5 separate regions of the Homo sapiens genome follow, and regions 1, 2, 3 and 5 are each linked to region 4. The links come from fine-mapping of genetic effects on gene expression. A gene starts in region 4. Each other region holds a variant in brackets. All regions are shown on one strand. Distances are between the middles of the regions. Region 1 overlaps ATP2C2 (ATPase secretory pathway Ca2+ transporting 2). Region 2 overlaps WFDC1 (WAP four-disulfide core domain 1). Region 3 overlaps ATP2C2 (ATPase secretory pathway Ca2+ transporting 2). Region 4 holds the start of ATP2C2 (ATPase secretory pathway Ca2+ transporting 2). Region 5 has its middle 28 kb from the start of ATP2C2.

Evidence for each region. PIP is the estimated chance that this variant, and not a neighbour inherited with it, causes the effect. A credible set is the group of variants that fine-mapping cannot tell apart.
Region 1: its variant is the best candidate, but not a certain one, in a credible set for the expression of ATP2C2 in fibroblasts (GTEx, PIP 0.85).
Region 2: its variant is the best candidate, but not a certain one, in a credible set for the expression of ATP2C2 in testis (GTEx, PIP 0.67).
Region 3: its variant is the best candidate, but not a certain one, in a credible set for the expression of ATP2C2 in whole blood (TOPMed, PIP 0.82).
Region 5: its variant is the best candidate, but not a certain one, in a credible set for the expression of ATP2C2 in sun-exposed skin (GTEx, PIP 0.83).

The regions. Positions count from the first base shown.
Region 1 is chr16:84,453,241-84,458,360 of GRCh38, forward strand. It overlaps ATP2C2 (ATPase secretory pathway Ca2+ transporting 2), which reads left to right. Exons shown (of 27, transcript NM_014861.4): 20 at 81-131; 21 at 1,578-1,744. Among named protein-coding and RNA genes, the nearest start is that of ATP2C2-AS1, 12 kb to the right of the region's middle. The variant A/C (reference allele first, on the strand shown) is at 2,084.
Region 2 is chr16:84,323,856-84,328,986 of GRCh38, forward strand. WFDC1 (WAP four-disulfide core domain 1) reads left to right here. Exons shown (of 7, transcript NM_021197.4): 5 at 564-605; 6 at 3,027-3,100. The coding sequence ends at 3,085. Among named protein-coding and RNA genes, the nearest start is that of WFDC1, 32 kb to the left of the region's middle. The variant G/T (reference allele first, on the strand shown) is at 2,594.
Region 3 is chr16:84,395,308-84,400,438 of GRCh38, forward strand. It overlaps ATP2C2 (ATPase secretory pathway Ca2+ transporting 2), which reads left to right. Exons shown (of 27, transcript NM_014861.4): 2 at 3,192-3,302. Among named protein-coding and RNA genes, the nearest start is that of ATP2C2, 29 kb to the left of the region's middle. The variant A/G (reference allele first, on the strand shown) is at 2,900.
Region 4 is chr16:84,365,492-84,370,491 of GRCh38, forward strand. It overlaps ATP2C2 (ATPase secretory pathway Ca2+ transporting 2), which reads left to right and starts at 3,047. Exons shown (of 27, transcript NM_014861.4): 1 at 3,047-3,223. The coding sequence starts at 3,125.
Region 5 is chr16:84,337,956-84,343,078 of GRCh38, forward strand. No RefSeq gene overlaps it. Among named protein-coding and RNA genes, the nearest start is that of ATP2C2, 28 kb to the right of the region's middle. The variant C/T (reference allele first, on the strand shown) is at 2,680.

The DNA.
Region 1 (5,120 bases), 88 kb after region 4:
TCCCCGGAGGCTTGGCTGGCAGTGGGGCTGGGTCACAGCTTTGAAATCTGATTCTTCGTCTTCCCCGTCTCCGTGTCCAGGTGTCCGTGTTCTTCAGGACCAGCCCAAAGCACAAGCTCAAAATCATCAAGGTTCGCTGGGCAAGGCAGGCACAGGCTGCGCTGCTGGGGCCGGGCCAGAGACACTGTGGCTCGAGGAGCTCATGCGTCCGTCGGGTGACAGTGCAGGGCCCGACCGTGGCTTCCTTCTCTAGGTCCAGGGCAGCTGCCCCGGGAGTTACCTTTTCATAGCCAGGGGGAGGGGAGGAGGTTGAGCAGGGGCGCGTGGGCAGCTCCCTTGGAGAGGACGAGGCTCTGAAGTTGCCAGCAACACTTGCGCTGACAGCCCCTTGGCCAGAACACAGTCACGGGCCCAGGTTTAGCTGCAGGGGATGCTGGGAAGTGTCATCTGTAGCTGGGCGGACACGAGCCCCACCAAACCTGGGGATAATTTTAAAGAAGATGGGAGAACTGGGGGACCTTTGCTACATACAGTGAAAACTGGGAGCTGTAATTGGATAACGTAGAGGGAAAAACTAAAAGAGAAGCTATCTTTTTTTTTTCTGGGGGTGGGGTTGTAGGTACGGAGTCTTGCTCTGTCACCTAGGCTGCAGTGCAGTGGCACAATCTCGGCTTACTTCAACCTCTGCCTCCCAGGGTTAAGCGATTCTCCTGCCTCAGTCTCCCCAAGTAGCTGGGATTGCGGTGTGCACCAGCACACCCGGCTAATGTTTGTAATTTTAGTAGAGGCAGGGTTTCGCCATGTTGGCCAGGCTGGTCTCAAACTCCTGACCTCAGGTGATCCGCCTATCTTCGCCTCCCAAAGTGCTGGGTGCTTTTTGGCTTTATTCCTTTTACTCAACTCCGTGCCTCCGTTTCCTCATCTGTAAAATGGGGGAACTATTAATGCCGTCAGCTGATTCACAGGGTTGGTAGAGAATTAAACAAAGCCAGGCCCATGAATCTCTTGGCACACAGCAGGAGCCCAATAAAGAGCTGATGTGATTTTTCTGACTCTGAATACCAAAAAAAGGTAGAAAATGTGCTTGGTTTTCTCGCCTGTGCTCTGAAAGTTTGCTCTTGAGCTCTTTTAGTAGACGGGCTTTCTTCTTTCATGTTATTTTTAGCTCTACAGAGTAAATCCCTATGTGAGTTACTCCTCAAAGAAGGTAGTAATACTTACCAGGTACCCCATGGTTTCCAGGGCCGCACTGTTGATTACTGTTTATTACTGGGACTGGATAACCTTTATGAGCCTTTACTGACCGTGCTGGGCACCGTCACATCCGTCATCTCAGTTTGGGCCTCACAACAGCCCTGGGAAGAAGAAACTGTTGCTCCCACTTTGCAGATAGGGAAACTGAGGTCAAGAGGGTCAAGGGCTCGCCCAATTCCCACAGCTAATGTGGGTGAAGCTGGGATTCGAATTCCGGGTGCCCTCCAGACAGAGGTGTCTGTGGCTGGCCACAGGGTGTGCATGGCCGGGCACTGGGAGGTGGTCGTCAGGCTGCAGGCCTTCATTGCCTGCTCTTTCCAAAGGCTCTGCAGGAGTCAGGGGCGATCGTGGCCATGACTGGGGATGGGGTGAACGACGCAGTGGCCCTGAAGTCTGCAGACATTGGGATCGCCATGGGGCAGACAGGGACGGACGTCAGCAAAGAGGCCGCCAACATGATCCTGGTGGATGATGACTTCTCAGCCATCATGTAAGCTGCCCTTCTGGTTGTTTTTCAGTTGCAAAAATGCCTGGGGTCACCAGCTTCTCCCTGGAACCTGCTACTGTGGAGATAGAGGGGGGGGTCTCGCGGAGTCCCCAGGGAGAGCTGAATCTCGGGGCTCGTCAGTGTGGCAGGTGCCCCCAACCCCAAGTACCAACAGCCTCTCATAGCAGGGTCATGGGGTCCATGATGCCTGGGGCTAGTCACATGCTGCCCCCAGGGGAATGTTACGGATATGAAGCAGAGATGGGATTTGCTGCCTGTGGGTGCATTTCATGTGGTACTGGGAATGCCCGCCTGGCTCAGGCTGGTGGGCAGCAGCTGAAT[A/C]TGTAAGGAAAACCTGTGGCCAAATACGTGCTCACACTTGAGTGTGGGGTGAGAAAGGATTAAAATGAACATCTTCCGTTTGAGGCCTGCGTGTTGATACATATATCTCAGGCATTGCAAAGAGACCTGGGCAGAAACACCCCCATCGCTGACCACGGAGGTGCTCTCTAGGTTCTGGGGCTTGCACAAAACTATTTGTTCTGTTTCACTTTTCTGTATTTTTTTCTTAATACATTTACCTTCCTAATTTTAATTAGTTCTGAGACTCTCCTCATAAGCTAATCGCAGTGGTTAGTTGGGGGTGAGGGAAAACTTTTTAAGCCTGATACAAAAAATCCAAATAAACAAATATTGAGGCTAGGTGGATCGTGCACTTTACAAAGGTGTCTCCACAGTTGATTCGCCATAGGAAGCCTTAACACACTTAGAAAAAAAAAAAAAAGTCATAGATAGCTCTTATTATTTTGAAATACGTCCCATCAATACCTAATTTATTGAGAGTTTTTAGCATGAAGGGTTGTTGAATTTTGTCAAAGGCTTTTTCTGCATCTATTGAGATAATCATGTGGTTTTTGTCTTTGGCTCTGTTTATATGCTGGATTACATTTATTGATTTGCGTATATTGAACCAGCCTTGCATCCCAGGGATGAAGCCCACTTGATCATGGTGGATAAGCTTTTTGATGTGCTGCTGGATTCGGTTTGCCAGTATTTTATTGAGGATTTTTGCATCAATGTTCATCAAGGATATTGGTCTAAAATTCTCTTTTTTGGTTGTGTCTCTGCCCGGCTTTGGTATCAGAATGATGCTGGCCTCATAAAATGAGTTAGGGAGGATTCCCTCTTTTTCTATTGATTGGAATAGTTTCAGAAGGAATGGTACCAGTTCCTCCTTGTACCTCTGGTAGAATTCGGCTGTGAATCCATCTGGTCCTGGACTCTTTTTGGTTGGTAAACTATTGATTATTGTCACAATTTCAGAGCCTGTTATTGGTCTATTCAGAGATTCAACTTCTTCCTGGTTTAGTCTTGGGAGAGTGTATGTGTCCACAGCCAATATCATACTGAATGGGCAAAAACTGGAAGCATTCCCTTTGAAAACTGGCACAAGACAGGGATGCCCTCTCTCACCGCTCCTATTCAACATAGTGTTGGAAGTTCTGGCCAGGGCAATCAGGCAGGAGAAGGAAATAAAGGGTATTCAATTAGGAAAAGAGGAAGTCAAATTGTCCCTGTTTGCAGACGACATGATTGTTTATCTAGAAAACCCCATGGTCTCAGCCCAAAATCTCCTTAAGCTGATAAGCAACTTCAGCAAAGTCTCAGGATACAAAATCAATGTACAAAAATCACAAGCATTCTTATACACCAACAACAGACAAACAGAGAGCCAAATCATGAGTGAACTCCCATTCACAATTGCTTCAAAGAGAATAAAATACCTAGGAATCCAACTTACAAGGGATGTGAAGGACCTCTTCAAGGAGAACTACAAACCACTGCTCAAGGAAATAAAAGAGGACACAAACAAATGGAAGAACATTCCATGCTCATGGGTAGGAAGAATCAATATCGTGAAAATGGCCATACTGCCCAAGGTAATTTACAGATTCAATGCCATCCCCATCAAGCTACCAATGACTTTCTTCACAGAATTGGAAAAAACTACTTTAAAGTTCATATGGAAGCAAAAAAGAGCCCGCATCGCCAAGTCAATCCTAAGCCAAAAGAACAAAGCTGGAGGCATCACACTACCTGACTTCAAACTATACTACAAGGCTACAGTAACCAAAACAGCATGGTACTGGTACCAAAACAGAGATATAGATCAATGGAACAGAACAGAGCCCTCAGAAATAATGCCGCATATCTACAACTATCTGATCTTTGACAAACCTGAGAAAAACAAGCAATGGGGAAAGGATTCCCTATTTAATAAATGGTGCTGGGAAAACTGGCTAGCCATATGTAGAAAGCTGAAACTGGATCCCTTCCTTACACCTTATACAAAAATCAATTCAAGATGGATTAAAGATTTAAACGTTAGACCTAAAACCATAAAAACCCTAGAAGAAAACCTAGGCATTACCATTCAGGACATAGGCATGGGCAAGGACTTCATGTCCAAAACACCAAAAGCAATGGCAACAAAAGCCAAAATTGACAAATGGGATCTAATTAAACTAAAGAGCTTCTGCACAGCAAAAGAAACTACCATCAGAGTGAACAGGCAACCTACAACATGGGAGAAAATTTTCACAACCTACTCATCTGACAAAGGGCTAATATCCAGAATCTACAATGAACTCAAACAAATTTACAAGAAAAAAACAAACAACCCCATCAAAAAGTGGGCGAAGGACATGAACAGACACTTCTCAAAAGAAGACATTTATGCAGCCAAAAAACACATGAAAAAATGCTCATCATCACTGGCCATCAGAGAAATGCAAATCAAAACCACTATGAGATATCATCTCACACCAGTTAGAATGGCAATCATTAAAAAGTCAGGAAACAACAGGTGCTGGAGAGGATGTGGAGAAATAGGAACACTTTTACACTGTTGGTGGGACTGTAAACTAGTTCAACCATTGTGGAAGTCAGTGTGGCGATTCCTCAGGGATCTAGAACTAGAAATACCATTTGACCCAGCCATCCCATTACTGGGTATATACCCAAAGGACTATAAATCATGCTGCTATAAAGACACATGCACACGTATGTTTATTGCGGCACTATTCACAATAGCAAAGACTTGGAACCAACCCAAATGTCCAACAATGATAGACTGGATTAAGAAAATGTGGCACATATACACCATGGAATACTATGCAGCCATAAAAAATGATGAGTTCATGTCCTTTGTAGGGACATGGATGAAATTGGAAACCATCATTCTCAGTAAACTATTGCAAGAACAAAAAACCAAACACCACATATTCTCACTCATAGGTGGGAATTGAACAATGAGATCACATGGACACAGGAAGGGGAATATCACACTCTGGGGACTGTGGTGGGGTCGGGGGAGGGG
Region 2 (5,131 bases), 42 kb before region 4:
CACGCCTGTAATCCCAGCACTTTGGCAGGCTGAGGTGGGTGAATCACCTGAGGTCAGGAGTTCGAGGCCAGCCTGACCAACATGGCGATACCCCATCTCTACTCAAAATACAAAATTGACTGGGTGTGGTGGCGCATGCCTGTAATCCCAGCTACTCGGGAGGCTGAGGCAGGAGAATCACTTGAACCCAGGAGGCAGAGGTTACAGTGAGCTGAGATCATGCCACTGCACTCCAGCCTGGGCAACAGAGTGAGACTTCGTCTAAAAGAAAAAAAAAAAAGACAGTGGTTCTGAAACTTTTTGCTCTCAAGACCGCTGTACCCTGAAAGATGTTAAGGAGATCTCACAGGGCTTTCCTTTATGGGTTGATGGCTCTGGATATTATCATATTAGAAACTAGAGCTGAGACATTACAAATGCTCATGTAGCCTCTGAACAATTCCATTGTACACTAGTGAGATGGGGAGACTGAAAAACACAAGTAATTCCTCAGTGTTATTATGACAACAGTTTTGGCCTTCTAAACTCCTAAAAGAAGTTTTTTCCTCTCACTTGTTTTCCAGATGGGCGAATCCTACGACACAAACTTTACAAAGAATATCCAGGTAAAAGAAGAAACTGTTCTTTCTTTCCAGAGGGCACAAAAAAAAGGCAGTGAAAGTTTCTTATGTGAAGAAAAAAATAAAAGCCCAGGGCTGAGATATAGGGAACAAAATGGGACCTGGGATTAAGAAACAAAATAGAAGACCTGTGGTCTGATGGTGGGCAGGGAGTTGTGAGTCACAGAGGAGCTCATGGCAAACATGACCTCATGCTGAAGAGCAGAGCCTGGAACTGCTCATATTTAAGCCTCTGCTACTTTCATTCAGAGAATTGGAAAACACGCCTGATACCACTCTTCCATTCATCCATCTAATCATCCATTGATCCATCCATCTCTCCATCTATTATTTCATCCATCCATTCATCCCTCCATCCATCTACCCACCCATCCATCTACCCACCATCCATCCATCCATCCACCGATTCATCCATCCATCCTCTCATTCATCCATTCATATATCCATCTATTCTTTCATTCATCTTCCTGTTTTTTCATCCATTCATTCCTCTATCAATCTATTCATCCATCTATTCATTCTTCCATCCATCCACCCATTCATCCATCCATCCACATATTCATCTATCTTTTCACCCACCCATCTATCCTTTTATCCACCCCTTTATTCCTTCATCCCTCCATCCATCCATCCTTTCATTTACTTACCTATTCACCAATCATCCATTCATCTATCCATCCATCCATTCATACATACATCCTTTCACTTATCCATCTATCCACCCATCTACCTTTTTTTTTTTTTTGAGATGGAGTCTCACTCTGTTGCCTAGGCTGGGGTGCACTGGAGTAATCTTGGCTCACTGCAAACTCTGCCTCCTGGGTTCAAGCAGTTCTCCTGCGTCAGCCTCCCAAATAGCTGGGATTACAGGTGTCCGCCACCATACCTGGATAATTTTTGTATTTTTAGTAGAGACGAGGTTTCACCTTGTTGGCCAGGCTGGTCTTAAACTCCTGACCTCAGGTGATCTGCCCGCCTCGGCCTCCCAAAGTGCTAGATTTACAGGCATGAGCCACTGTGCCTGGCCCCATCCACCCATCTGTCTATCCATTTATCCATCCATCCACTCATCCATCCACCCACCCATCTATGCATCCACCCACCATCCATCCACCCACCCATTCATCTATCCATTCACTCATTCATCCATTCATATATTCATCTAATCTTTCATCCATCCATTTTTTCAAGCATGCATCCATCCATCCATTCCTCCATCGATCTATTCATCCATCTGTTCATTCTTCCATCTATCCATCTATATATTCATCTATCTTTTCATCTACCCATCTATTATTTTATCCACCCTTCTATTCCTTTATCCCTCCATCCAACCATCCTTATATCCACTCATCTATTTGCCCGTACATCCATTCACCCAACCATCCATCCATCTGCCCATTCATCCATTCATGCACATATCCTTGCATTCATTCATCTATCTCTTCTTTCATCCATTCATACATCCATCCATCCACCCATCCACCCATCTACCCATCCATCCATTCACCTATGTATCCATTCATCCATCCACCCATATATCCATCTATCTATTCAGCCATCCAGCCAGCCACTATCCATCCATCTATCCATCCATCCATATATCCATCCGTCCATCCACCCACCCATCTATCCATCCATCCATCCATCCATCCATTCATCTACCCATCTATCCATCTATCCACCCACCCATATATCCATGCATCCATCCATCCATCATTTATCCATTCACCCATTCACCCATCCATCCATCCATCATTTATCCATTCACCCATCCATCCATCCATTCTCCCATCCATCTGATATGTCTTTATCAATAATTTACAGCACATATTTTCTAAGTATTACTCATCAGTCTGTGCTGGGGGTTGGAGCTACATTTGTGAACATGACAGACCCAGTCGCTGCTGTCATGCAGCTAATATCAAGCAGAAAATTCAGACATGAATATAGCCCAAGTGGTTATTTTATGA[G/T]AATAGTGACAAGCCTTCCTGACATCACATGCTGGATACTATGAGGACACCTTAGTCCAGGTTGTGAGAAAAGGCTTCCTAAGGAGGAGACATGAAAGCTCAGCCTAAAGAATAAGAAATAGTGGGCAGCAGAATGGCATGTGTGAAGCTCTTGAGGTCGGAAGCAATTTGGCCATCCCCAAAGCTGGAGTGTGTGGTGAGCTGTGGAGGTGGTGGGAGGTAAGACCAGAAACATAGACAGAGCTGGTGACACCAGCTGGGGGGCCTGGGGAGGGAGAGGAGGCACTGCAGGTGGGGACTGAGTGACCTCAGCTGGGGGAGGGAGGAGAGGGCCAGGTCACCAGGCTTCATTTGGCAGTTCCTGGTGAGCCACGGGGGGCATTAGAGCAGGAATAGATACATCTACCCCAACAGAGCTGTGTTCTTTTCACAGAAGGTGACTCAAAGAATGTGGCAGAACCTGGAAGGGGACAACAGAAGCACTTTCAGTAAAGCAACGGCAAGCAGGTGAGTGGGCAGAGAGCAAGAGTCATGGCCAGGGTAAATGTGGGCAGCCAGTGTCCTGGCAGCTTTCACCACCAGGTTGAGGAGCAGGAGGGTGAGAGTAGCGCTTTCCCTACTGGTAGAATTTGAAATTCCCTTCTGCAGTAAGTCCTCACCTAACGTCATCAATAGGTTCTTGGAAACTGACTTTAAATGCAACGACATACTATATGCACTGTATGCCATAGAAGCTTAACTCATTTGTTTGTTTTTTTAAGAGATGGGGTCTCACTCTGTCACCCAGGCTGGAGTGCACTGGCACAATCATTGTTCACTGCAGCCTCAGACTCCTAGGCTCAAGCCATCCTCCTGCCTCAGCTTTAGTCTCAGTAGCTGGGACTACAGACATACACCACCTCACCTGGCTAATTTTTTTTTTGTATTTTTTGTAGAGATGAGTTCTCACTATGTTACTCAGGCTGGTCTTGAACTCCTGGCCTCAAGCAGTCCTCCCACTTTGGCCTCCCAAAGTGCTGGGATTGCAGGCATGAGTCACTGTGCCTGGCCTTAACTCTTGTTTATATCCATTAGCCTATGGTAAAATTGTTTTTGTTATATAGTAGGTCATTTTGCTTAAAGTTGCAGTTTCCAATAAGCTATCCATGATGTTAAATGAGGACCTACTGCAATTTCAAGGCAGGAACGTAGGAGAACTTTGTGTGTGATCAGAAGCAGAAGCAATTCTGTATCCCTCTGAATCAAAAATCCAAGACCAGACTAGGTCGCAACTTTCCTTTTCATTCCTTTGCCTTGATGTCTCCAGGAAGTCTTGTCTATCTCTTCTCATTTCTGTCAAACAATTCTGTTGGGTGCCAACTATCTGATAGTCATGGTTCCAGCCTCTTGGTTGCTCAGCGGTAGTTCATGCCAGGGTGGTATAGTGAACAAATCCCACAGAGCCGCTGCCCTCAGGGAGGCCACATCCTGGTAGGGGACGGCTACACAAGCCAACAGATCAATCAATACAAAGACAGGTGTGGTGAAGAAGTGAACAGGCAATGTGGGGCAGAGTCCCTGGGCAGGAGCAGAGCCTGGGGCAGGGGCTGCTTCGTTTGGGGTCAGGGAAGGCCCTGTGGGGGTTGAAGTCTGAGCCAAGATCCAAGGTGAGAAGGTGCTGCTTGGGGAGGGTCTGGAGGATAGGCGCCCAGGTGGAGGGAGTTGGAAGAGTGAAAGTACTGAGGCAGGAGGGACGCTGGCTTTGGGGAGCCAAAGAAGGCCCCTGGGGTAGACGCAGGAAGGTGGCAGGGAGGCTGACTCCAGAGGAGGCCGCAGGTGAGGCACAGGCTTGCCCTCACGTGCCCTCAAAGGTGAGGCGTAGGTGCATGCAAAGGGCTGTGGAGTTGCAGCCCTAAACCTGAAAATCTACCCAGCCCCTGTGAATGCTGGATAGCCACAGAGGGCAAAAAGGAGCCCCTAAAAGCAGGTGACAGCCTCCCAGGACGTCGCTGAAACGCAAATGTCAGATTGCAGGTTCCAGAATCCTCCCGGAAAATCTGGAGCCCGTAGGGACTGATGCCAGCACGTCTGTTACCTGCTGATGACAGGAGCCGTCCCTGGAGTAGGTCAGATGCAGCTGAGGACTGAGCTTCTAACAGGGAAGAAGGAGGCCAGTGGATGAGGACGAGACCTTGGGAGGCAGTTGAGGATGGCAGTTTGGAAGTTGAGGCTTTTGGGTGGGCGCAGCAGCTCCCGCCTGTAATCTCAACATTTTGGGAGACCGAAGCAGGCATATGGTATAATCCCAGGAGTTCAAGCCCAGCCTGGCCTGGCCAACATGGTGAAACCCTATCTCTACAAAAAAAAATACAAAACTACCCAGGCATGGTGGTGTGCACCTGTGGTCCCAGCTACTTGGGAGGCTGTGGTGGGAGGATCACCTGAGCCTAGGGAGGTTAAGGCTGCAGTGAGCCATGTTTGCACCATTGCACTCCAGCCTGGGTGACAGAGTGAGACCCTGTTTCAAGAAAAAAAAAAAGTACAGCCTTTGGAGCAAGC
Region 3 (5,131 bases), 30 kb after region 4:
CCTGTCACCCCATGACTTCCTCAATCCACCTAGCTCATTCCCCAGGGACATGTGGGTGGACAGCCCTGGGCCTTCAGATGTCCAGAGCACGTGACAAAGGTTGGGGGCACATGCTAGTCCTGCCCTCAAAGGCAGGGGAATTGGTGCCTTTGATCTTTTTTTTTTTTTTGAGACAGAGTCTCACTCTGTTGCCCAGGCTGGAGTGCAGTGGCATGATCTTGGCTCATTGCAACCTCCGCCTTCCAGGTTCAAGCAATTCTCCCTGACTCTGGCTCATTGCAACCTCCGCCTTCCAGGTTCAAGCAATTCTCCCTGACTCAGCCTCCAGAGTCGCTGAGATTACAGATGCCTGCCACCATGCCTGGCTAATTTTTGTATTTTTACAAAATACCATGTTGGCCAGGCTGGTCTCGAACTCCTGACTTTAGATGATCTGCCTGCCTCAGCTTCCCAAAGTGCTGGGATTATAGGTATGAGCCACTGTGTCTGGCCCTTTTCTTCTGGATTTTTATTGTGGTAAAATATACATAACATAAAATTCACCATTTTAACCATTTTTAAGGGTATGGCTCTCTGGCATTAAGTATATTCCCATTGTTATGCAACCATCACCAATATTTGCCTCCAAAACTCTCATCTTTCCCAAAGAGACTCTGTAGTCATTAAACACTAACTCCCCAGCCCGGTTACCTCTGCTCTCCTTTCTGTCTCTGTGAGTTTGACTATTTTAGGGACCTCCTGTAACTGGAGTCCTATAGGATTTGTCCTTTCGGGTCTGGCTTATTTCACCAGGCATAACATCTTCAAGGTTCATCCATGTTGTAGCATGTGTGGGTTTTGGGCAGTCACATTGAAGGTAATTGGGCTCTTATCCTGAGAGCACTGGAATCTCTGCAAGTGTTTTCAAGCATCGGGCGTGTGTGTGTGTGTGTGTGAGATGGGATTTATGTGTTTCGAGCCAGGTGCAGTGGCTCACGCCTGTAATCTCAGCACTTTTGGAGGCTGAGGCAGGCAGATCACCTGAGGTCAGAAATTTGAGACCAGCCTGGCCAACCTGGTGAAAACCCGTCTCTACTAAAAATACAAAAACAAATTAGTGAGGCGTGGCGGTGCGTGCCTGTAGTCCCAGCTACTGGGGAGGGTGAGGCAGGAGACTCGCTTGAACCCGGGAGGAGGAGGTTGTAGTGAGCCGAGGTCGCACCACTGCACTCCAGCCTGGGTGACAGAGTGAGGCTCTATCTCAAAAAAAAAAAAAAAAAAAAAAAGGAAAAGTGAATTCGGTGTAGTGAGTCACAAATGGCAAGGCTGAGGGCAGCTGAGTGAGTGTGGGGGATGGGGGGAGTGCCCAGCCTGCCTCCACCTGTGGTGTGCGCAAGAATCAAGCACTTTATTTGGTACGACGGGAGCAGATCTTGAGAATGGGGGGAAAAGTCTTGTGCAATCCACATTTTTCTTTGAAGTAACTCTACAAAGAATGCAATGTTGACTTAAGGAGGGCTCCCAATGGATGGCTAAGCCTGCTTAAAGATCTGCGTAATCGCTGCTGTGCTCCTGGGCACTGGGCATGAGTGAGAAGCAGCCGCATGAAACCGAGGTGGGTAGCACAGCTTTTCTAAGCAAATAGGCATTTGGGAGGAGATGGTTTGGGGTTGGGGAGGGCGGCTGTCAAGAAGGAAGAGTGGGATTTGCAATCTCTATTACAGCTAAAGGAGGAAGTTACTCAATACCTCTCCTGCTTCCTTTTTCCCAGTTTCCAGTAACCTGGTGGAAAAGGAAAAGATGATTATCACATCCTGGGTATCAGGATGCTAGGAATGGTTTTGCAAAAATACCTCACACTTTTCCGCTTCTGAGGTCTCCTTTGTATTAGCAAAGCCTCCCGAAGCCTCCAGGTGTTTCACGTGGCTTCTTTCCAGGCCCGCAGGTCTCAACACAGAGTGCTGGGACTTCCAGAACTTGGTTGTGTTTCCCCTCCCCTTTTCTTTGGTTATTTAAAATGTCCCATAGAACCAGGCTGTGATACCACCTATCATCAGTAGGAGGCACTCTCTGCAATATGGTGCATACTTGATGGAGAATCCTGGAAGTTCGAGGTTCAGGATTCTACATATGTATATTGTTGCCCTACTCTGTCCACTTACAAGTTTCAATTCTGTAAAATAAGTTCGCTCAGCCTGGGCAACATAGGGAGACCCTGTCCCTACAAAATATTAAAAAATTAGCCAGGCACAATAGCATGCACCTGTGGTCCTGCTATTCAGGAGGCTGAAGCAGGAGGATCACCTGAGCCTGGGAGGTTGAGGCTGCAGTGAGCTATGATTGCACCACTGCACTCCAGCCTGGGTGACAAAAAAAAAAAAAAAAAACTTGCTTAAAAATAGATGCATCAGTATTAGCCAACAACTAACAACTGGAACCCAGATATTCATCAACAGGAGAACAAATACAATGTGATCTACTCATACAGTGGAATACTAAGCTGCTGTGAAAATTAGCGTACTGTTGCTACATGCATTCTCACTTGTATAAATCTCACTAACAATGTTGAGTGAAAGAAATCAGACAAGAAAGCATGTATGAGTGTATACTGCATGGCACCATTTCCATAAAGTTCAAACCCTGGCCAACCTAATCTATGAGGATTGAAACCATGACAGCAGTTACCCCTCAGGTAGGTAGGTTGGCCAAGGGAGCATCAGGGGACCAGTCATATCTGTTTCTTAATTTGGGGGCTGGTTATAAGGGTTAGTTTGTGAGCTGTACACATATGCACACTGTGTGTGTGTGTTTTATGCTTTAAAAAAAACACATGTGGCCGGGCGCAGTGGCTCCACCTTTAATCCCAGCACTTTGGGAGGCCGAGGCAAGCGGATCACCTGAGGTCAGGAGTTTGAGACCA[A/G]CCTGGCCAACATGGTGAAACCTCGTCTCTACTAAAAATACCAAAAAAATTTAGTGGGGTGTGGTGATGCGTACCTGTAATCCCAGCTACTCGGGAGGCTGAGACAGAAGAATCTCTTGAACCCGGTAAGTGGAGGTTGTGGTGAGCTGAGATCATGACACTGCACTCCAGCCTGGGTGACAGAGTGAGACTCCATCTCAAAAAAATAAACTAATAAAAATAAAAAATAAATTTAAAAATTAATCAGTACAAAAGTTCAATCCGCTAAACAGCAACCCTGCTCTTTTCACAGATTGATGAACAGAGTGAGCTGAAAGCCATCGAGAAAGAGAAGAAGGTGACAGCCCTGCCCCCCAAGGAAGCGTGCAAATGCCAGAAAGAGGATTTGGCCAGAGCGTTTTGTGTAAGAATTGAATTTGCATCTGGAGCTAATTGTGATAAGGTTTTATGTTTAAAAGAAAGCAACACAAAGCCCTGAACAGTGCTTTGAAATTCTGTGTTATTATCAATTTTATCATCAAGGTTGGAAAATATTGTTGATGTTGAATGGTTCAGATTCCACAGGTAGAATATCAGTACTTGTCAGTAGAGCTCGTCTTCACCAGGCCCTTACCGGAAGACGGCGTCCTTTGAGACACTCTGTGTACGCTGCTTCTCTTCAGCCTCACATTTCTTGGCAAAAACATAAAGGGATGGAAGATGAAGTTGAGACACAGAAAGTAGCACAGTCCAGTGTTAGAGGTAGCACAGCCCAGCGTGGAGTCCAGCTGTTTCACATGAAAGCCCAAACTCTTGGTCATCCGGTATTCCCACCGTCGTCTTTTATAATCCGTGGAGTTGCCAGGTACTAAAACCAAATTCTCCCAAGTTTCTCAAGTGAGTTTGAATTAATTCCTGGCCAGTGCAAGACAAACATTTGCATTGCACACAAGTGTGTGTGTGTGCACACGTGCGTGCACGTGCATACTCAGAACCACTACATTTTGGGAAAGCAAATAAAAAGCCCCCAGGAAAAGGGCACATACTACAATTTCAGGAAGTTGGAAGCTAGTGTCTTTTCTTGAGAATAACTCAAGTCTGTTTCAATTCAAGTCCTGTGTATTAGTATTTGGAGAGGGGGAGGAAGTATTTCTTCTCTGCCTGCATATTATCCCTAGCTAGAAAATGAGCTAGATTTTCTTTCACTATTCAAAAGAATCTAGAAATCAATTCTGTTCTCCCCGTTTCCTCTACCAGCAAGTACAGTTTTCTTGTTATTGGCTTTTTAAAAACAAGGACACTTTTGTTGCGACCAGAACAACAAAGTTTCCTTCCATTATGACTGACTCATAAATTAGCTGTATTTAACGAATTTGTTTACAGAAAGAGCTTGAATGGAGTTGGGCACAATATAATTGTTTTAGCTACTGTTTCTTTTTTATTTTTAATTTTTGTGGGTACATAGTAGGTGCATATTTATGGGTTCCAGAGATACTTTGATACAGGCATACGCTATAATAATCACATCAGGGCAAACGGGGTCTCCATTACCTCAAGCATTTATCCTTTGTGTTACAAGTCATCCACTTACACTCTTTGAGTTATTTTAAAATGTACAATTAAATTATTTTTGACAACAGTCGCCCTGTCATGCCAGCAAATACTAGGTCTTATTTATTCTTTCTGACTATATTTTTTGTACCCATAGCCCTCTCCACTTTCTCCCAACTACCCTTTCCAGGCCCTGGTAACCATCCTACTATCTCCATGAGTTCAGTTATTTTAATTTTTAGCTTCCACTAATCAGCGAGAACCTGCAAAGTTTGCCTTTCTGTGTCTGGAGGTCACTATGTTATTTGACTTAATATAATGACCTCCAGTTCCATCCATGTTGTTGCAAATGACAGGATCTCATTCTTTTTTATGGGTGCATAGTACTCCATTGTGTATATGTACCACATTTTCTTTATTCATTTGTCTGTTGATGGATACTTAGGCTCCTTCCAAACCTTGGCTATTGTGAATACTCCTGCGATAAACATGGGAGTGCAGATATCTCTTCAATATTCTGATTTCCTTTCTTTTGGTTATGTATCTAGGAGTGGGACTGGGGATCATATAATAGTTGTATTTTTAGTTTTTTGTTGTTTTTTTTTTTTGAGATGGAGTCTCACTCTGTCACCCAAGCTGGAGTGCGGTGGCGCGATCTCTGCTCACTGCAAGCTCCGCCTCCTGGGTTCACGCCATTCTTCT
Region 4 (5,000 bases):
AGGTTTCACCGTGTTTGCCAGGATGGTGTCAATCTCCTGACCTCATGATCCGCCTGCCTCAGCCTCCCAAAGTGCTGGGATTACAGGCATGAGCCACTGCGCCCGGCCTACATTTCCCTATTATAAAGCAAATCGTTCATATGAAAGTTCTGTTAAATATAAATTTGAATGATCTGCTGTTTATGGGAGACATATTCAAAAATTTTTTGGAGTATTTGCCATGTTTCAGGCACATCATTTACCATAACCAACACTGGTGGAGCCTAATTTACCTAATTTTACACACCACAAATCTAATTTATAGGCCTGGGCAACAGAGCAAAGACCCCATCTCTACATAAAAATAAAAATTAGAAAATTAGCTGGGTGTGGTTCTGTGCACCTGTAGTCCCAGCTACTCAGGAGGGAGTATTGCTTGAACCCAGGAGTTCAAGCCTACAGTGAACTATGATCGCGCCAGTGCCCTCCAGCCTGGACTACAGAGTGAGACCTTGTCTCTAAAATGTACATGCATATATCCACCACCTAGAGTTTCCTTCTGGAATGCCCTGGGCATTTTCGAACCTAGCCCAGGAATTCCAGCCTTGACATCTCTGGGCTGGAGCGGAAGCCATGGTGATAGGATCCGAAAGGCTGGGCTTTCAAATCCTCTGCTCCGGGGATGCTGATCTGCCTGGAGAGATGACATCTGGTTAACAGCTTGGAAAAACATGAAGATGCCAACAAGGCGTTCTTCTTCCCTGGATCCAACATCATTTTAAAATCACAGAATGCCACTTGGGAAGGACCTGAGAAATAACTGAGCCAAGTTCCCATATGTTCTTTTATATTAATAATATAGAAGCGCCTGAGAGCCTGCAATGTCGGGTACCACGACATCGTACTACTACATCATACCTGTGCAAGCATTCACTCAGCCTGAACCACAGGATGCTGAGGTTGGCTGCGGGATGTCTCCTCCTTGTTCCTCTACAACACTCTTTTTTTTTTGTTTGTTTGACATGAAGTCTTGCTCTACTGCCCAGGCTGGAGTGCAGTGGCACAATCTTGGCTCCCTGCAACCTCCACCTTCCGGGTTCAAGCGATTCTCCTGCCTCAGCCTCCGAAGTAGCTGGGATTACAGGCGCATGCCAGCACACCTGGCTAATTTTTCTATTTTTACTAGTGACAGGGTTTCCCCATGTTGGCCAGGCTGGACTCGAACTCCTGACCTCAGGTGATCCGCCCACCTTGGCCTCTCAAAGTGCTGGGATTAGAGGTGTGAGCCACCTTGCCCAGCCTCCTCTACACCACTCTCCACCCTTCTTTGGATTCTCTGCCCAGGAGGCTGCATCCTTGGCGCTCTGTTGCTTTCTGGCTTTTGATCTAAGCAGTTGCCCTCTGCAGAAGTTATCAGTGCCCCAGAGCTCCCCCTCCAGGTAACTCCTCTCTCGTCTGGCCCTTCAGGCCTTGGGTGGGACCAAAGCCACTTCTCACTCTTTGCTAGTCTTCGTTAATGACACAAGCACTTCTGGTTTCTCTACGTCTTCCCCACAGCTTTGTAAAAAGTCTGTTTCTCAAACTCTCCTCAAATTACTATTTCCTACTGGGACCCTGACTCCTACGGGTAGGTAGTGACATCCCCATTTTATGGATGAGTAAACTGAGGTGGAGAGAGGTGAAGAAAATTGCCCAAGGTCGGAAAGGAACATTCCTGGGATTCAAATCTGGACTCACTCACATCAGAGGTTTGCTGTTACCATTATTCCTGCACCTTTGTTGAAACTGGGGAGTGGGGCCAGGCTGATACCGTAGCCTTTGTTTCCTTGAAAGAGGAAGATGCAGGAGATACAAGAAGGGGCACTGGAACTGCCCTGCAGGTTTTCGTGGCCTGGAGTCAACCCTCGGGAGCAATTGAGGTAGGTGGCAAATATTTGCTCAAAAGGGGTGGCTGAATTTCGTGGACAAATGCAGAGGGCACCTCCTGTAGCCCGTGAGTAACTTCCCTGTAGAGATGAGGAAGCCAGCGGAAAGGCGGGTGGCACGGACTTCCCCAGAGCTCCCCCTCTGCTAAGTGGTGGGTCTAGTTACGGATCTAGTCCTACCTGAAGCCAAAGAAAGCCCTGGAACTTCAAAGCACCCACTTGGCTGCTGGCAACTGTCTACACTGCGTATGGACTCACATACTTTGGGAGCCATTTGAGCCCAGCACCTTCTGATGATGAAGAGGAGGAGGATGGTGTCATGGGGACACCAGCACATTCTCTACTCCAAGCCCTGCTCGAGACCTTCCTGTACAGCACTGTCCGCTGGGGCCTCTCCATGTCACTGTGAAGGAGGCGCTATCGTGGTGGCCATTCTGCAGAGCAGTAAACCAAGGCGCTAAAAATATAAGAAACCTGCTCAGGTCCCACGACGAGCAAGAGCGGCGCTCATCCTGCAGACGAGGACAGGGGCCCTGACCATCCGAGACCATGCAGGCGCCAAAGGCAGCAGGGCTCTCAGTCGCTCCTGTTCCTGGACTCACTCCCAGGGCCCTGGAGGTGGGGGTCTTAGCCTTCTGCTGCTCCCCGCTCAATGACAGGCTAGGTTGCCGAGGCTCAGAAAGGCCACGTGACCCGTCCAGAGTGCACAGCCGCAGGTGTGAGTCTGACTGAGCTCCAGCCACCTCGCTCCCGGCGCCTTAGAGCCGCCCACCCTGGGTTCCTCAAGAGGATCACCTGGGGCTCGTTAAAAACCCAGCTCCCGGCGGCTCCAAACCGTGACTGGGCAGGGAGGGGTCTGGGAATCCGGATTTTAAACCAGCATTTGCTCCTCCACCTCCCCCACTCCAGGTGATTCTTAGGATCTGTAAGTTTGGGAAACAGCCCAAGCCCTGAGGCGACGCAGCCTCTCCCTGGGCCTTTCATGGCCAGCCGGCGCTGTCCCCAGAGCCCCTGGGGTCCCAGGCGAGCTCGCGGGGCGGGGCCGGGTGAGCCGGCACCTCCCTGTGCGCAGCCCCGCCCCAGGGGCGGGGCCTCACCTGCCGCGGGCAGGTAGACAGCTACCTGGTAACCGGGTCCGGCCCAGGAGGCTTGGGCGCGCGCAGCCATCCCGGGCCTCGCCGGGGACCTAGGGACGCAGGCAACGCCTGCGCCCGCTCACCATGGTCGAGGGACGCGTCTCCGAGTTCCTGAAGAAACTCGGCTTCTCGGGCGGGGGCCGCCAGTACCAGGCGCTGGAGAAGGACGAAGAGGAAGCCTTGGTGAGTCCCCGCGACTCCGCGCCGGGCGTGCGACCCGACCCCCCATCCCCTCCGTCGTAACCGTCCCCGGCCCGAGACCCCGCGTTCGCGCTGCGATCCGCGAACTCGCCCTCCTCCCCTGGCTCTGGAAAGAAGCTGTCCTCACAGCAACCGCGCTCTCATCTGCGCTCTGGCGCGGGGAGCTCAGCATGGAACCCTCACGTGAACCCATTTTGTGGTTGAGAAACTGAGGCCGAGAGTGGTTAAGTATATTCCCTAAGGGGCACGGAGCTAGGAAGTGACCTGGCTGGGAACTTAACCTAGGTTTCTCTGACTCCAGAGAATTAAAATTCCTGGGTCTCCAGACTTGGGCTGCTTTATGGATTTTTAAAACTTAAATTGGAAAATAAAATTAGAGGGATGCAAAAAACAAAAGATTGCTGAAATGTTGTAGCAATAATAGAAAGCAAAGTTGGAGCTGAGGGACCTCCCAGCCTCACTTCCTACAGTCAGGTACTTTTAGAAAGTCACTCAGAGCTGTATGCCTGCTTTGCAACCTTCAGGGACCCTCTGGGATAAAGCAGCAGGGTGCCAGGGCAGGGCGGTTCATGAGGGAACGAAGTGGCAAAGCTGTCAAATAAAGCCCCTCCTGTTCCTTGGATTCTTGGAAGCCAGGGGTGAAGCCAGGCTTGAGGGTGACCCAACACCCTTCTTTTTAGCTTCGCAAACAGAACTCGTTGCATGCTTTAAGGTCAGGGGGGCACTGAATTTCTGCAGAAGCGTTTCTCTGCACGCCAGAGGGTCGTTGCACTTTTTTTTTTTTCATTTACGCTTAAGCAGTCGTTCAAAAGTAACATTTCTGAACGAGTCCCCTGGGTTGCTAATTAGAAATATGACTTGGCGATGGCCTTTTGACCAGTGAAAGGAAACTTCAAAGGTAAACTTACCTTTTAATTAAAAAAAGAAATTAGCTGAAAAAATATTTGACTTAAAATTTTATTTTTTTCTCCCAAAGAATACTAATGGTCAAAACATTTTGTTTGTGAGATTAAGTATTCGTGCTTTTTTAAAAATAGTGTTTTGTGCTTTTTTAAAAATAGTGTTTTATACATCCCTGTTGATGTAAGAATTCTGGTCTTAGGGTGGTAGGCCACAGGACCACGTAACTAGCAGTTTTTGAGCAATCTCGATTTTTCTGAAGTGGCATGTTAATATTGATAGGATATAGAGTTCAATTAATTGGCTGTGATCCATTTCTCTGCTTCTGCGATACATTCTGCTAAAGGAGTTTGAAGTTTATTTGCCATCACAGGTTGCCTTTCCTATGTTGCCATTCCTGTTTTTTCCTTTCCATCTTTTGATTCTTGCATCAGGCCAGGTATTTTTCAAACTCTCCTGGTGTGTAGTTGGTTACCATCAGGTTTCACAGGATGTCCAGGAATGCAGGTGCATGGATGATGTAACCTCAAGGGAGATGCTGGGAGAGTTTGATCTCTGTGCCAGGTGGACTCGTCCCTCCAAAGCTTTGCAGGAGAGTTCTCAGAGGTCTGACAGGTGTTCAGCCGGTCTGTCAGTGTGCTCTCCCACCTGGCTGTGGACCGGGGTGCTCTCAGCAGCATCCTGAGGCCCTGGGTGCGTGATGATGGGCAGTGTGCAGCGCCAGGAGGCGGGTGATACCAGCACTGACACCAAAGGCCAGCTGAGAAAGAAGCCATGCTGTCTCCAGAGGCAGCCTTGTGCAAACCCAGGAAATGTGCAAACCCAGGAAATGGCAATGAAGATCGATGGGAAGTGTGAG
Region 5 (5,123 bases), 27 kb before region 4:
AGACGGAGTCTCGCTGTGTCGCCAGGCTGGAGTGCGGTGGCATGATCTGGGCTCACTGCAACCTCCGCCTCCAGGTTCAAGCAATTCTCCTGCCTCAGCCTCCTGAGTAACTGGGACTACAAGCACACGCTGCCACACCCGGCTAATATATATATATATTTTTTGTATTTTAGTAGAGACAGTGTTTCACCATGTTGCCCAGACTGGTCGCGAACTCCTGAACTCAGGCAATCCGCCTGCCTCGGCCTCCCAAAGTGCTAGGAGTAGAGGCGTGAGCCACGGTGCCTGGCCTAAAATCCATAGTATTTCTATACACCAAAATGAACAATCTGAAAAAGAAATCAGGAAAGTAATCCCGCTTACAATAGCTAAAATTAAATACCTAGGAATAGGCCAGGCGCAGTGGCTCACACCTCTAATCCCAGCACTTTGGGAGGCCGGGGTGGGTGGATCATGAGGTCAGGAGTTCAAGACCAGCCTAGCCAACATGGTGAAACGCTGTCTCTACTAAAAATACAAAAATTAGCCGGACGTGGTGGTGCATGCCTGTAATCCCAGCTACTCAGGAGGCTGAGGCAGAAGAATTGCTTGAACCTGGGAGGCAGAGGTTGCAGTAAGCTGAGATCGCGCCACTGCACTCCAGCCTGGGGGACAGAGCGAGACTCCATCTCAAAAACAAACAAACAAACAAACAAAAAAAACCTAGGAATTAACCAAAGAAGTGAAAGAGCTCGGCAATGAAAACTTTAAATCACTGATGCAAGAAATGGAAATGGACCCACCAAAAAGAGAAAGATATTCCACGTTCGTGGATTGGAAGAGTCAATGTTAAAATGTCCAAAGTATCCAAAGCAATCTACAGATTTATGCAATCCCTATCAAAATACCGATGACATTCTTCATAGAAATAAAAAAAAATCCTAAAATTATATGGAACCACAAAAGACCTAGAATAGCCAAAGCTATCCTGAGCAAAAAGAAAAAAACTGGAAGAATCACTTTACCTGACTTCATATCATACTACAGAGCCATAGTAACCAAAACAACGTGGTACTAGCATAAAAATAGACACATAGACCAATGGAACAGAATAGAGAACCCGGAAACAAATCCATACCCCTACAGTGAACTCATTTTGTTTCCACATGTACCCACAAAAAGTTTAAATTAAAAAAATTAACTCTAATATTTTTTAAGGTGAAAGCATTATAATATCAGACTGGTTAGTTGTGCTTTTTCTTTTAATTGTGTATAAAGTTGCACATGAGTTGTGGTGTCTGCTGCCTGTCGCTGTTCCAGCCTGGAACAGCCTAGAAACCGCCCCTGCTGCCTATAGTCTAGTGGGACACAGTACATGGAGAAGCAGGGATTTGAACCATGGCCTGCTGATTCCCAGGGGCTCTCCCCTTCATCATGCTGCCCCTGGGATGGCTAAAGAGCCTCCCTTCCCTCCTCCCTGGCCTTTCCTGCTTCCTCCCTGCACGGGAGGAGAGACACAGATGGATCAGTGATCGCAGGCAGATGGTGTGTGCCTGGCCCGTCTGGTCTGGGAAGCAGCTGTATGTTTTTGGCTTTGAACCTAGTACAGTTTCCCCTTGAGATCCTCCCTTGGACCTGACTGTTTTGGAGACAGATGACAGTGTCTCTCTCCTGAGCTGAAATCTGAGCAGACACCCGGCTGCCTCAGGTTGTTGGAGTGCTCTGGACTGGAGCTGAGTTCCATGGTGGCCCTACTGGTCCTTAGCTGCGTATCCCTGGACAAAGAGCTTAGCCACCCTGATCCTCAGTTTCCACTGCTTTGAAACGGGGGGTAACATCTGCCGTGCCTTCCATAGGACCAGATGAGATGAGGGTGTGAAAACGGTCAGGAAACTTACAAGGCTGGGAGGCAAAGAAACACAGAAGGGTCACTGAAGACCCCAGCCAGGGACTCAAAGGCGCTGAGAGGCTGGATGACCACTGCACTTTGGTGACGATGACAGAAACCCAGCGGGAACCAGTCGGGGCAGATGGGGCCACGTGATGAGCCGTGTGAAGGAGTGGCGAGGGGCTGTGGCCCTGGGCTGATGGGGTTCAAGACTTGGCTCTGAAAGAAGAACAAATTTGTTCCCTTTTATTGCCATTAATTGTCAAAGTCAAATTGTATTTTATACTAAGGTCATTTGGCTGGATTTTTTTCTTTAAAGAATTTTTTTAAAAAAACTTCTTGCTTTGAAATTCTGATAAATTTACAAGACATGCAAAGAAATATACAGGGAGGTCCTGGTCCCTCCACCCCTCCTCCCCCATGGTAACATCTCACACGGTTACGACATGACATCAAAACCGGGAAGGTGACGCTGGCAATCTCCATGGAGCATACTCATCTGTGTCCCACTCTGCACGGGTGTGTGTGTGCGTGCGTGTGTGTGTGTCTTTGCACGTGTGTGTAGCTCTGTGATCTTGCTGCATGAGCAACCATCACCATCAAAAGATCCTGACTGCACTGTCACCTCCTCCTCACTAGGTGGTTTTATTACCCACGTGTGGATGGAATATGAGGAAGACGGGAGTATGTGGCAATCTCCCCACGGCCTCACAGCTGGAAACTGGCGGGGCAGGTTGTTGGGACATCAGAGCCCCACCTCCCGTTCTCCCACTCTTCCAGGAACAGAAGGAGGCCAGCCCCACTTCTCTGAA[C/T]CCCTGTCTGGAGTTTTCTCTCTTGCAGCACAAGTTCTCCTGTATTGAGGAAGCAATTTCTCAGTTGCGGCCACCTCTCTAACCACCTGGGGACGGTTCCACAGCCACAGGGAGCAGGGGTGGCCAGAGGCTGAGAGGACTCTGTCCCTCCTGACAGCAAACAGGGTCTCAAAGCATGGCTGCGGGATGGGCCCCTGGGTGCTTTGGGTCCCCACTGCAAGACGGGGCACCGGGACGCTGGAAACTAGTGGGCAAGCCTGTGGGCCCCTCCAGGCCTGCTGGAGACAAAGCACCTCCCGCCATCCAAGGACCCTGAAAGCAGCTTTTTCCGTAAGGGCAAACTTAACTAAATCATCCCTTTGGGCCGGGCATGATGGCTCATGCCTATAATCCCAGCACTTTGGGAGAATGAGGTGGGAGGATTGCTTGAGCCCAGGAGTTCAAGGCCAGCCTGGGCAACAAAGTGAGACTCTGTCTCTTAAAAAAAAGAAAAAAAAATCAGGCATGGTGGTGCACAACTTCAGGTCCCAGCACAGGAGGCTGAGGTGAGAGGATCGCTTGAGCCCAGGAGGTCGAGGCTGCAGTGAGCCATGATTGTGCCACTGCACTCCAGCCTGGATGCCAAAGCAAGACCCTGTCTCAGAAAAATAATAATAATAATAATAATAATAATCCCTTTGGACTTTGGTTATTCGGATGTGGCCACATTCCCTCCCAGGTTGCTTTCCATCTGAGTTGCCAGTATAAGCTCGCACCCTGAGCCTTTTTTCTAGAACATTCTCACAGATATCAGTAAGTTGGTCCAAAGAGAAGGCAGGTGGGTTCATTTCAGGTGACTGTCTTTCAGGACAAACCTGATCTTACAGCCCCCACAGAGGTTCTTCCCGTGCAGACACCTGGAGTAGGAGCCTGAGTGAAAAGGAGCCCAGCCCCCAAAACATCCTTCCTGCAGGCCCCTGTGAGCTGCCTGAAGTTCCACCATTACAGAACCATCTTTTGTTGACAGCTGCGAGGCCTGTTAGACTGTGGACTTCTCTGGGAGAGGCTGCTGTAATCTAAGCCGTTAGGGAATCCCGCCCTTCAGTTTACGTTCTGGAGTGAAGCCACACAGGTGCGTCGCTGATCATGGCCACCGAGGTAAGAGGTAGGAGAGGGTCATACTGGGATCTGGGCCTCCAGTCGAGATGAGGAGTCAGGGCGGCCTTCCCAGAGGAGGCAACGTTTGAGCAAAGTTTCTGAGTATGAGTTTCTGTGGCTGCTGTTAACAAATGCCCACACACCAAGTGGTTTGAAACAACAGTCATGCATTCACACTGTTCTGGAGGCCAGAAAGCCAAAACCAAGGTGTTGACACGGCTGGGTCATTCCGGAGGCTCTAAGGGAGAATCCAACCCGTGCCTCTCTCCGGGCTTCGAGGGAGAATCTGCCCGGCGCCTCTCTCCCGGCTTCCGATGGCAGCCGGCCACTTCAGTACTCCCGGCCTTGAGGATGTGCCTCTCCCATCTCTGCAGCGTCTTCCCGTGGCCTTTGCCTCTGTCTCCGTGTCCCAGATTTCCCTCTGATTTCTCTTTGAAGGACACCTGTCATTGGATTTAGGGCCCTCTTAAGTCCAGGATAATCTCCTCTTGAGACCTTTAACTTCATCCCATCTGCAAAGTCCCTATTTCCAAATGAGGTCACATCCGCAGGTTCTGGGGGTTAGGACATGGGCATTCTGGGGAGACGTCATTGAACCCCCAGCAGGGAGCAAGCGGCTAGGTCAGGAGAGGGAAGAGGGGTAAAGGCATTCCAGGCAGAGGGAAGAACATTGAAAAAGGCATGGAGAAGAGAAGTTCAAGGACCTCCAAGCAGGTGGGCATGGCCAGGGAAAGGGGGCACCCAAGAGTGAGAGGATGTGGGGCTAGAAAGCTAAGCAGGTGCCAGCCGGTTCACACGCTGAGTTTGAACTTGACCCTGTTGACCTAAAGGAAAAAAAAAAAACAACGGAGGAAAAAATGACTTAATTACTTAGTTAAATTAAGTAGAGAGTTTATTTGGGCCAAGCTTGAGGATTTCAACCTGAGAGTATGGACTCAAGCTGCTCTGAATATAAAGTCCACTCAGCAGCAGTTACAAGTAGGTTTTTAAAGGAAAAAAGGAAAGGCAGTTCCCAAGCTGTTTACCAAGAATTTATATGAAAATAATAGAAACTATTGCTTGGCTAGGCATTGTTCTTTGTGTCACAAATTCCCAGAACATGAAGATAGCGGGTGAGGCAGCAAGTCAGGAACAAAATGCCTTTAACTACCCCTAGGCCTGGGGGTGACGGCATGACTGAGGTCCCACACTCTCGTCTTTCCGAGCCTGATGAATTCTGCACATCCCAGGAAGCTCAGACTCCAAGCCATTTCTTTTTTCTCACCCCTGAAAATAATGTGGAGATGCTGAAAGTTTTACCTGGGTCA